Regions from separate parts of the Homo sapiens genome. Here regions 1 and 3 are each linked to region 2. The links come from fine-mapping of genetic effects on gene expression. A gene starts in region 2. Each other region holds a variant in brackets. All regions are shown on one strand. Distances are from middle to middle.

Evidence for each region.
Region 1: its variant is fine-mapped to the expression of RAD51D in whole blood (INTERVAL, PIP above 0.99). The same link has a PIP of 0.9 or more in blood mononuclear cells.
Region 3: its variant is fine-mapped to the expression of RAD51D in whole blood (TOPMed, PIP above 0.99).

What each region holds. Positions count from the first base shown.
Region 1 is chr17:35,170,368-35,173,127 of GRCh38, reverse strand. It overlaps UNC45B (unc-45 myosin chaperone B), which reads right to left. Exons shown (of 20, transcript NM_001267052.2): 13 at 1,666-1,806. Among named protein-coding and RNA genes, the nearest start is that of SLC35G3, 23 kb to the left of the region's middle. The variant T/G (reference allele first, on the strand shown) is at 1,505.
Region 2 is chr17:35,118,796-35,121,549 of GRCh38, reverse strand. It overlaps RAD51D (RAD51 paralog D), which reads left to right and starts at 1,690. Exons shown (of 10, transcript NM_002878.4): 1 at 1,690-2,018; 2 at 2,378-2,439. The coding sequence starts at 1,937. It overlaps RAD51L3-RFFL (RAD51L3-RFFL readthrough), which reads left to right and starts at 28. Exons shown (of 7, transcript NR_037714.1): 1 at 28-259. RefSeq lists an enhancer at 1,358-1,417 and a silencer at 1,628-1,827.
Region 3 is chr17:35,095,604-35,098,363 of GRCh38, reverse strand. It overlaps RAD51D (RAD51 paralog D), which reads left to right. Exons shown (of 10, transcript NM_002878.4): 10 at 1-2,760. The region is part of intron 5 of RAD51L3-RFFL (RAD51L3-RFFL readthrough); the gene reads left to right. Among named protein-coding and RNA genes, the nearest start is that of RAD51D, 23 kb to the left of the region's middle. The variant A/G (reference allele first, on the strand shown) is at 1,168.

The DNA of each region.
Region 1 (2,760 bases), 52 kb before region 2:
AAGTATAAAAATTGCGTTTTAGGCCACAGTGCGTGTGGCAATGTGTTCTAGAAACAATAGGAAACTAAGACACTTCTCCAGATTCCCTCTTCCCAAGCAACTGCCAAGGGGTATACAGCACGCCTTGCTGTCGTGTGTGATTGTCTCTCCTCTCTTCTTCCTTGCCTTACCTAATCCCAAGACAGAGCCTGAGGAGCTGATACCGTAGAAAACCAGTCCCAAAGATTCTCTCATTCACAGAGGAATGAAATAAAAGACGGATAATCCAAAAGACTAAATGATGCGTATATTGTTTTTCTTGGAGAAGGCTGAGGTGGGAGTGGAGGTAGAGAGAGGGTATAGGCAGGAAAGGACACAGTGGATGAAGCCGCCATAACAATGGATTGGGTTTGCTGGAAACCCAAAGTCAACCCAGGGTTAAAGAGTCCCTACAGATAATCCTCAGAGTGAGGAGTGGTGGGGAAGGGGCTGACAACCCTGGGCAAGCCCTGGAAGCCACACTGGAACTTCACAGCCACAGCACATGCTCTGCACCCTTGCCTGGATGAAACATCATGCAGCTTTCAAAAATGATTCAGAGGCCAGGTGTGGTGGCTCATGCCTGGATTCCCAACGCTTTAGGAGGCCGAGGTGGGTGGGTCACTTGAGGTCAGGAGTTTGAGACCAGCCTGACCAATATGGTGAAACCCTGTTTCTACTGAAAACACAAAATTAGCCGGGCATGGTGGTGCATGCCTGGAATTCCAGCTACTTGAGAGACTGAGGCAGGAGAATCACTTGAACCTGGGAGGCAGAGGTTGCATTGAGCCGAGATCTCACCACTGCACTCCAGCCTGGGTGACAGAGCAAGACTCTGTCTCAAAAAATAAATAAATAAAATAAAAATGATTCAGAGAATGAGATGGCAATGTGAAAAACATATTTTTCCAAAATTGGGCACAAAATGATAAATATATTCTAATTATAACTGTGAAAGGAAAAAAGATACATAGAAAAAAAGCCTCTGGTAGGTAACATAACATCAAAATGCCAACAGCAGTCATGTGGAGATGACGTAATCATGAGTGGTTATTTTCTTTTCCCCACATTTTAACTCGTTTTGCAGCATGATTATATTACTTTGATCATTAAAAAAATCTAAATGATTTTATTGGCTGGCAATATCTTGCATATATTCTTAAACAAATCACACACAAATCATATCTTCATGTGCAGGGAATTGTTGGAGAGGGTTCCAGGGGATCTGTGACTTCTGGGCTAATGCTGACCATGCCTCTCCTCTCATGATTCCTACTTAGCACCCATGTCACAAAATCCAGAAATCTGAGAAAATCAAATTGTTATCTGTTGGAGACATGAAATAAAACTGTCTTTTATCCATAAAATCAACAACACAAATTGCAAAGTGTCCATCATGGCTCTGTTTGTTTTCTCAGACTATAAATTGTTGGATTTTTTTCAAAATAGAAAATAAAAACAAAGAAAAAGCATGAGCACCATCTGG[T/G]GGGAAAGTTTACCATTAACATATTCAATGTATGTGTATCTTACCCCCAACCACCCAAACACACACCGTGCCACTCCTGACACCACTCCTTTTGCCGTTCCGCCTCCTTTGGAGGCCTAGTGGCACAGACCAGACCCCTCCCGGGTCGCGCCTGACCCTACCTTGGGGTGTTCCTCGGGCACATGCTGCTTGGAGAACTTGGCGAGCTGGACAAGCTCTGGGATGACCTCCTTGACATCGTAGCTGTTGGTGCAGTTCACCAGGGTGGTGGCCACCGAGTACAGGATGGTCTTGTCACTGGTCTGGAAGGCACAGGGTTGGGGAGAGGGAAAGCAGAAAGGAAACTTTAGGACAAACCTCTGCTTCCAGGATGCTCCCTCACGTGGCCGGCAGGTTGGTGTCGGAGGAGTGCAGCTGGTAGGGCCCATTCTGAGGAAAGACAGCAGCGCAGGAGAGGAACGGTTCTCCCCATAAAGGCAGGCAGCAGTGTCTCCTGCACCCTCCACAGTAGCTCTGACAGTATGAATAGGAGCTGTCCCACAAAGATCCTCGCTTTGCGCCTCTTCCACAAGCCCAGTCTAACACTTTCCCATCCAACTGGAGATGGGGTGGGAGCTGGACATTTTCCGGTCCTGGTGAAAATCTCTCCCATGCTTCCTCCATTTACTGGTAGAAAAGGGCCAGGGAGTTGGCCCAGCAGATGAGGAAAGGAGTCTGGGGGGGCCTGGGAGGGAGGGCAGGTTCCCAGAAAGGCCAGGCACAGCCTCTTTTATTTATTTATTTTCTTGAGGCAAGGTCTCTCTCTGTCACCCAGGCTGGAGTGCAGAGCTGGAATTCTAGCTCACTGCAGCCTCGATCTCCCAAGGCTCAAGCAATCCTCCCACCTCAGCCTCCCGAGTAGCTGGGATTACAGGTATGTGCCACCACGCCCAGCTAATTTTTGTATTTTTTGTAGAGTTGGGGTTTCACCATGTTGCCTAGGCTGGTCCTGAACCCCAGAGCTCAAGCCATCCGCCCGCCTCAGCCTCCTGAAGTGCTGGAATTACAGGCACGTGCTACGATGCCCTGCTTTTTTTTTTTTTTTTTTTTTTTTTAGCTGCCTCAGGTCCTTCAAGACCTCACCTCCTGAGGGCCCCAGGAAAACAAACTGCCCTCCTGTGCATCTTCCCATCTCTGGAAGGCATTGGGAGTCGGGAGTCCATTTTACAATCAGGTAAAATGAGGGCCAGAAAGGGGGAAATAACCAATCATGTTTA
Region 2 (2,754 bases):
AACAATTACAGGCCAGCCTCCCCCCTTGATTTGAGGCTACTGCTGCCAGGCTAGCTATGTGGCTGGCCAGACCAAGGGCCAGTGTGACTGTGAAGCAGCATCATGAGAGGGGTAAAACCAAGGAACAGACTGCATGAGCCCTTGGGCCCCTTCCAGCTCTAATACTCCATGGTGATGGCAGCCCTGCCCTTCTCTGAAGATCTCAAAATGCCTGACACCTGTGTCCTTCCGCACTGCCCTGGGAAGGAGAATAAGGATGGTGAGAGATGGGCGTGGGATGTAGAGGATGGTGGTGTGGCCCTGAGAGATAGGCAGTATTGGAAAGTGTCTGCTGGGGAGGGAAACTTTGTCCGTAGAAGCTAAGGCTCTCTATCCTGAAACCATAGGCTGCAGACTCCACTGTGCCCAGTCGGTTAGTGAAAGGGAAAGCCCACATGGTTCATAGGGGTTCATGGCTCACATATGATCAGACTTCACTGCTAGAATTCTAAATGTGCCACACCCACACTCCCAAGTACTTTCCTGTGTGGAGTGACAATGGTGGCAGTTGCAGTGGGATACAGAGATGGGCCACACATGATCTCTGCTCTCAGAGAAACCACCTTACAGTAGGAAAACATGTACACAGCTTCAGGGGTGGGGAGGGGGGCTGTTAGAAAGCACTGGCTTTGCAGAGTCAGATGTGGATGTGAAGTCCAGCCCTGTGCCGCCTAGCTGGGTGACCTTTGGCAAGTGATTTAACCTCACTGAACCTCAGTTTCTTCATTGGTGAAACAGGGATAAAAAATAGCGCCTCCCTCACAGATTTGTGATGAGATAACCATGTAAAGTTTTATTTCTTCCTATGGATGAGGCAAAGCAAAGGACATTTAAAAATACCAAATCATATCTTTTTGTGTGTGTTCTATATAACCAAGGTTTCTTGCCCTTAAAAAAAATAAAAAATAAAATAAAAAATAGAGGCCGGGCACGGTGGCTCACACCTGTAATCCCCGCACTTCGGGAGACCAAGGCAGGAGGATTGTTTGAGCCCAGTAGTTCGAGACCTGTGTGGGCAACATGGTGTAACCCCATTTTGTAGAGGCGAAACCTCTACAAAAAATACAAAAATTAGCTGGGCAAGGTGGCACGTGACTGTAGTCCCAGCTACTCAGGAGGCTGAGGCAGGAGGATCGCTTGAACCCAGGAGGTCGAGGCTGCAAAGCTGAGATCTCACCAGGGCACTCCAGCCTGGGCGGCCGATCGAGACCCTGTCTCAACCAAAACAAAACAAACTTTTGAAAAATAGACGCAGGTGCCCTCTGGATGCTTTGCTGCTTCTTGACACCTGTCGTATAATCTGTAATGATGTGATTTCTGCGATTCCTTTTCATTGTCTGTCTTTCCCTTGCTCACAGTAAGCTCCCTGGGGGTAAGGGCGGGTCGTCTTGTGTCGCATTTTGTCTCCAGCGGAGATCCGTTCCGTTTGGAACGGAAGCTGGCGCACAGAAGGCTCTTTAGAAGGTCGGTGTGTGTGTTGCGGCAGAAGGTAGAGGCCGAATGTGGCCGCGGGTGGCGTGTTGAGCGCGGAGGGGGTCGTGGGACTCGGGAACCTGTGCAGGCGGTGGAGAGGGGCGCAGCGGCTCTGCCCCGTGCGGCCCGCAGATGGCGCTGCAGGCCAGGTCCTCGCCGCGCGCCAGCCTGGAACCCGGAAGCGGCAGCGCGGCGCGACCCGGCGGGCGGGCTCTGGGCGCGGGAATCCCGGCGGATCCCGGGCGGGCGGATGACCCCCAGCCCTACCCTTGGTGCCGCCTCCTCCTCTCTCCTTTCTCCTCCGGCAGCCAGCGCGCCTGTGTCCTCTCTAGGAAGGGGTAGGGGAGGGGCGTCTGGAGAGGACCCCCCGCGAATGCCCACGTGACGTGCAGTCCCCCTGGGGCTGTTCCGGCCTGCGGGGAACATGGGCGTGCTCAGGGTCGGACTGTGCCCTGGCCTTACCGAGGAGATGATCCAGCTTCTCAGGAGCCACAGGATCAAGACAGGTGACCGGGTGTGCGCGTGCCAGGGAGCCGCGCGGGCCTCGCACAACCTGGGCAGGCCCCGAGGGCTGGCGCACTGCCCTGGCATACCTGCAGGGCGCTTCCCCTCCATTCCTAGAGGGCCGCGCTTCTGGAGAGGCTCAGGAAGGGTGGGCGTGGGGAGCCAAGCTCTAAAACAGGGTAGAGATTCCTACTGTGTGCAGGGCACCGCGCCGGCTCCTGCAGCTTTGTTATTTCACACTGGCCTCCTGAGACGGCCTGCCGGGGGGTAGAATTGACACCCCATTTGACAGATGAGGAAAAACCAAGTGTGGGAGGCCCCAGTCCTCTCTGCCAATCCGCTATACGTGTTTTGTTTTCAGTGGTGGACCTGGTTTCTGCAGACCTGGAAGAGGTAGCTCAGAAATGTGGCTTGTCTTACAAGGTGAGCTCCTGATCTCCACATTCCAAACCTGAGTGTCTTTTTAAAAAGTCCATCCCAAGCCAGCTGGGCGCGGTGGCTCATGCCTGTAATCCCAGCACTTTGGGAGGCCGAGGCGGGTGGGTCACTTGGAGTCAGAAGTCAGGAGTTCGAGACCATCCAGGCCAACATGGTGAAACCCTGTCCCTACTAAAAATACAAAAATTAGCTGGGTGTGGTGGCCCACGCCTACAATCCCAGCTACTCGGGAGGCTGAGGAAGGAGAATCATTTGAGCCCGGGAGGCAGAGGTTGCAGTGAGCCGAGATCGTGCTACTGC
Region 3 (2,760 bases), 23 kb after region 2:
CCTCGAGAGGCTGAGTGGGGAGGATCACTTGAGCCCAGGAGGCAGAGGTTGCAATGACCTGCGATCATGCCACTGCACTCCAGCCTGGGCAACAGAGACTCTGTTTCAAAAAGAAAAAAAAAATCCCCACATTTTATTTAATTTTCAGTCCATACAGTTCTATTCCTGCTAGGGCTGTAACTCCAGCTGAAGGCACCACAGCTGTCACCCAAGGAGTTTCTGTGGCCATGGGAAGGTGTTGCATTCACTGCTACTTGAGACCACCACGTGACATTCCTGCAGGCTGTGCCCCTCACAGCCAGCTTCATCCTTTGGCTCCTCCTAGACCAGGACTTTGTCTTGCCTGCCTGCTGCCACTGCACTCTGTTCCGGCCACACCACACTGTGCAGTCCCCTGGTAGGACTTGGGCTAGGCTGGCTCTCCTGTCCAAGTGCCTTTTGCTCCCTTTGCTTATGTGTCTGTCTCTGCCCAGCTCCCACTGTGTCTGGTGCACACCCACCCTGACATCCTTTTTTATGCCTCAGCTGTGATCTAGATAGATGCTTACAGTAACTTCCCTGTATTAGTTATTCACTTGTACTTTCTGTTCACGTGTCTGCCTACAGGCTCCCACTTTTTGTCACTTTTTCTCTTTATACATTATGGAAGCTCAGTAATGATTAAATAGATGAATGATGTTTTAAAAATATATTTTAAAAAAGCAAAGGACTGGCTCTATCTCAGGGGTTCCTTCCATAAAGCGTCAACTTTCAATTTCCCCTGCGGGGGTGGTTTGAGACCTGAGGGCACTCTCTAGTTCTTAGGAAAAAAATATACATATACATATACATATATATATATATATACACACACACACACACACATATACACACATATATATACATATATATACACACATATATATATATACACACATATATATACACACATATATATACACATATGAGCCAGGCGCAGTGGCTCACGCCTGTAATCCCAGCACTTTGGGAGGCCAAAGTGGGCGGATCACAAGGTCAGGAGTTCAAGACCAGCCTGGCCTATATAGTGAAACCCTGTCTCTACTAAAAATACAAAAATTAGCTGGGTGTGATGGCTCGCATCTGTAATCCCAGCTACTTGGGAGGCTGAGGCATGAGAATCGCTTGAACCTGGGAGATGGAGGTTGC[A/G]GTGAGCCGAGATTGTGCCACTGTACTCTAGCCTGGGCAACAGAGTGAGACTCCATCTAAAAAATATATATATATGTTCACACCCACATCATTGAGTCCCCAGAGTGTCTTCTTACATATCTTTTTACAGGGGACTATTGTATGCCCTTCGTCTGACATCAGATGAAATTAATGTTGAGATCCTACTATGTGCTAGCACTTGATGGCCTTAATTAAAAATCAGGCATTTGAATTCCCAAGGACTCAGGCAAAGGTCCATGTATCATTAAGGCTGCAAGTAACAAAACCTAGGCTTAAAGAAGTGTAAATACTAGGGACACTTATTTATATTTATTTCTTTTATGTTTCAAGACAGAGTCTTGCTCTGGAGTGCAGTGGCACAATCACGGCTCACTGTACCCTCTACCTCCCAAGCTCAAGTGATCCTCCCACTTCAGTCTCCCAAGTAGCTGGGACTACAGGTGTGTGCCACCACACCCATCTAAGTTTTGTATTTTTTGTAGAGACGGGGTCTCTGTACGTTGCCCAGGCTGGTCTTGAACTCCTGGGCTCAGGTGATCTACCCGCCTTGACCTCCCAAAGTGCTAGGGATTACAGTCATGAGCCACCATGCCTGGCAGGGACACTTATTATCTCTGATAACAGGAAGTCTGAGGTTTGTTAATTTAGTGGCTCATTGTCAAATGGCGTAGAGCCTTTGCATCCTTCTGCTCTGTTCTTTTATGTTGGTTTTGTCTTCAAGCTTGTTCCCCTTATGAAAGCCTGGCTGCAGCCATTTTGAGCATCAATCCAGACGTGACAATATCTACAGGCAGGAGAAGGATCGCCTCCTGTGTGTCCTTTAAAGAACAAGGTGTTAACATGCCAGGAACTGTGGCTCCTGACTGTAATCCCAGTAATTTGGGAAGCCAAAGTAGGAGGATCGCCTGAGGCCAGGAGTTCCAGACCAGCCTGGGCAACATAGCAAGACCCTATCTCTATAAAATAAAATAATAAAAATTAAGAAAACAAGGTGTTAAAAGACAAAATTAAAGCAAATATAGTTTTGCAGATTGTAATTGACTTTTATTTGCAATTCTAGAATTGGGCTGCCCTCAGAACCAGGACAGGTTCAGAGAATTCCAGAGCTGCAACATAGTCTGAAAGCATTTATGGTCAGAAAACAGAAATGAGATACAAAGACAACTAATTGGTTACAGCTCTGCCTTTGCCTTATTTGAAAATGGTTTGAATAGTTGGCTGCCTGGAACCCACTGAAGCTGATGATGTGATTGGCTGAGCCTCAGCAATCTGTTACAAAAGTATACTCCTAAATTAGGTTTTCAGTTAGTTTGCATACTAAGGCTGCAGTTTGTTAAGGGCCCAAGTAAAGCCTCCTCAGGTCAATTTTTTTTTTCTTTTTGAGATGGAGTCTTGCTCTTGCTCAGGCTGGAGTGCAGTGGCGTGATCTCAGCTCACTGCACCTCTGCCTCCCGGGTTCAAGTGATTCTCCTGCCTCAGCCTCCTGAGTAGCTGGGACTACGACTACAGGCGCCTGCCACTATGTCCGGCTAATTTTTTGTATTTTTAGTAGAGATGGGGTTTCATCATGTT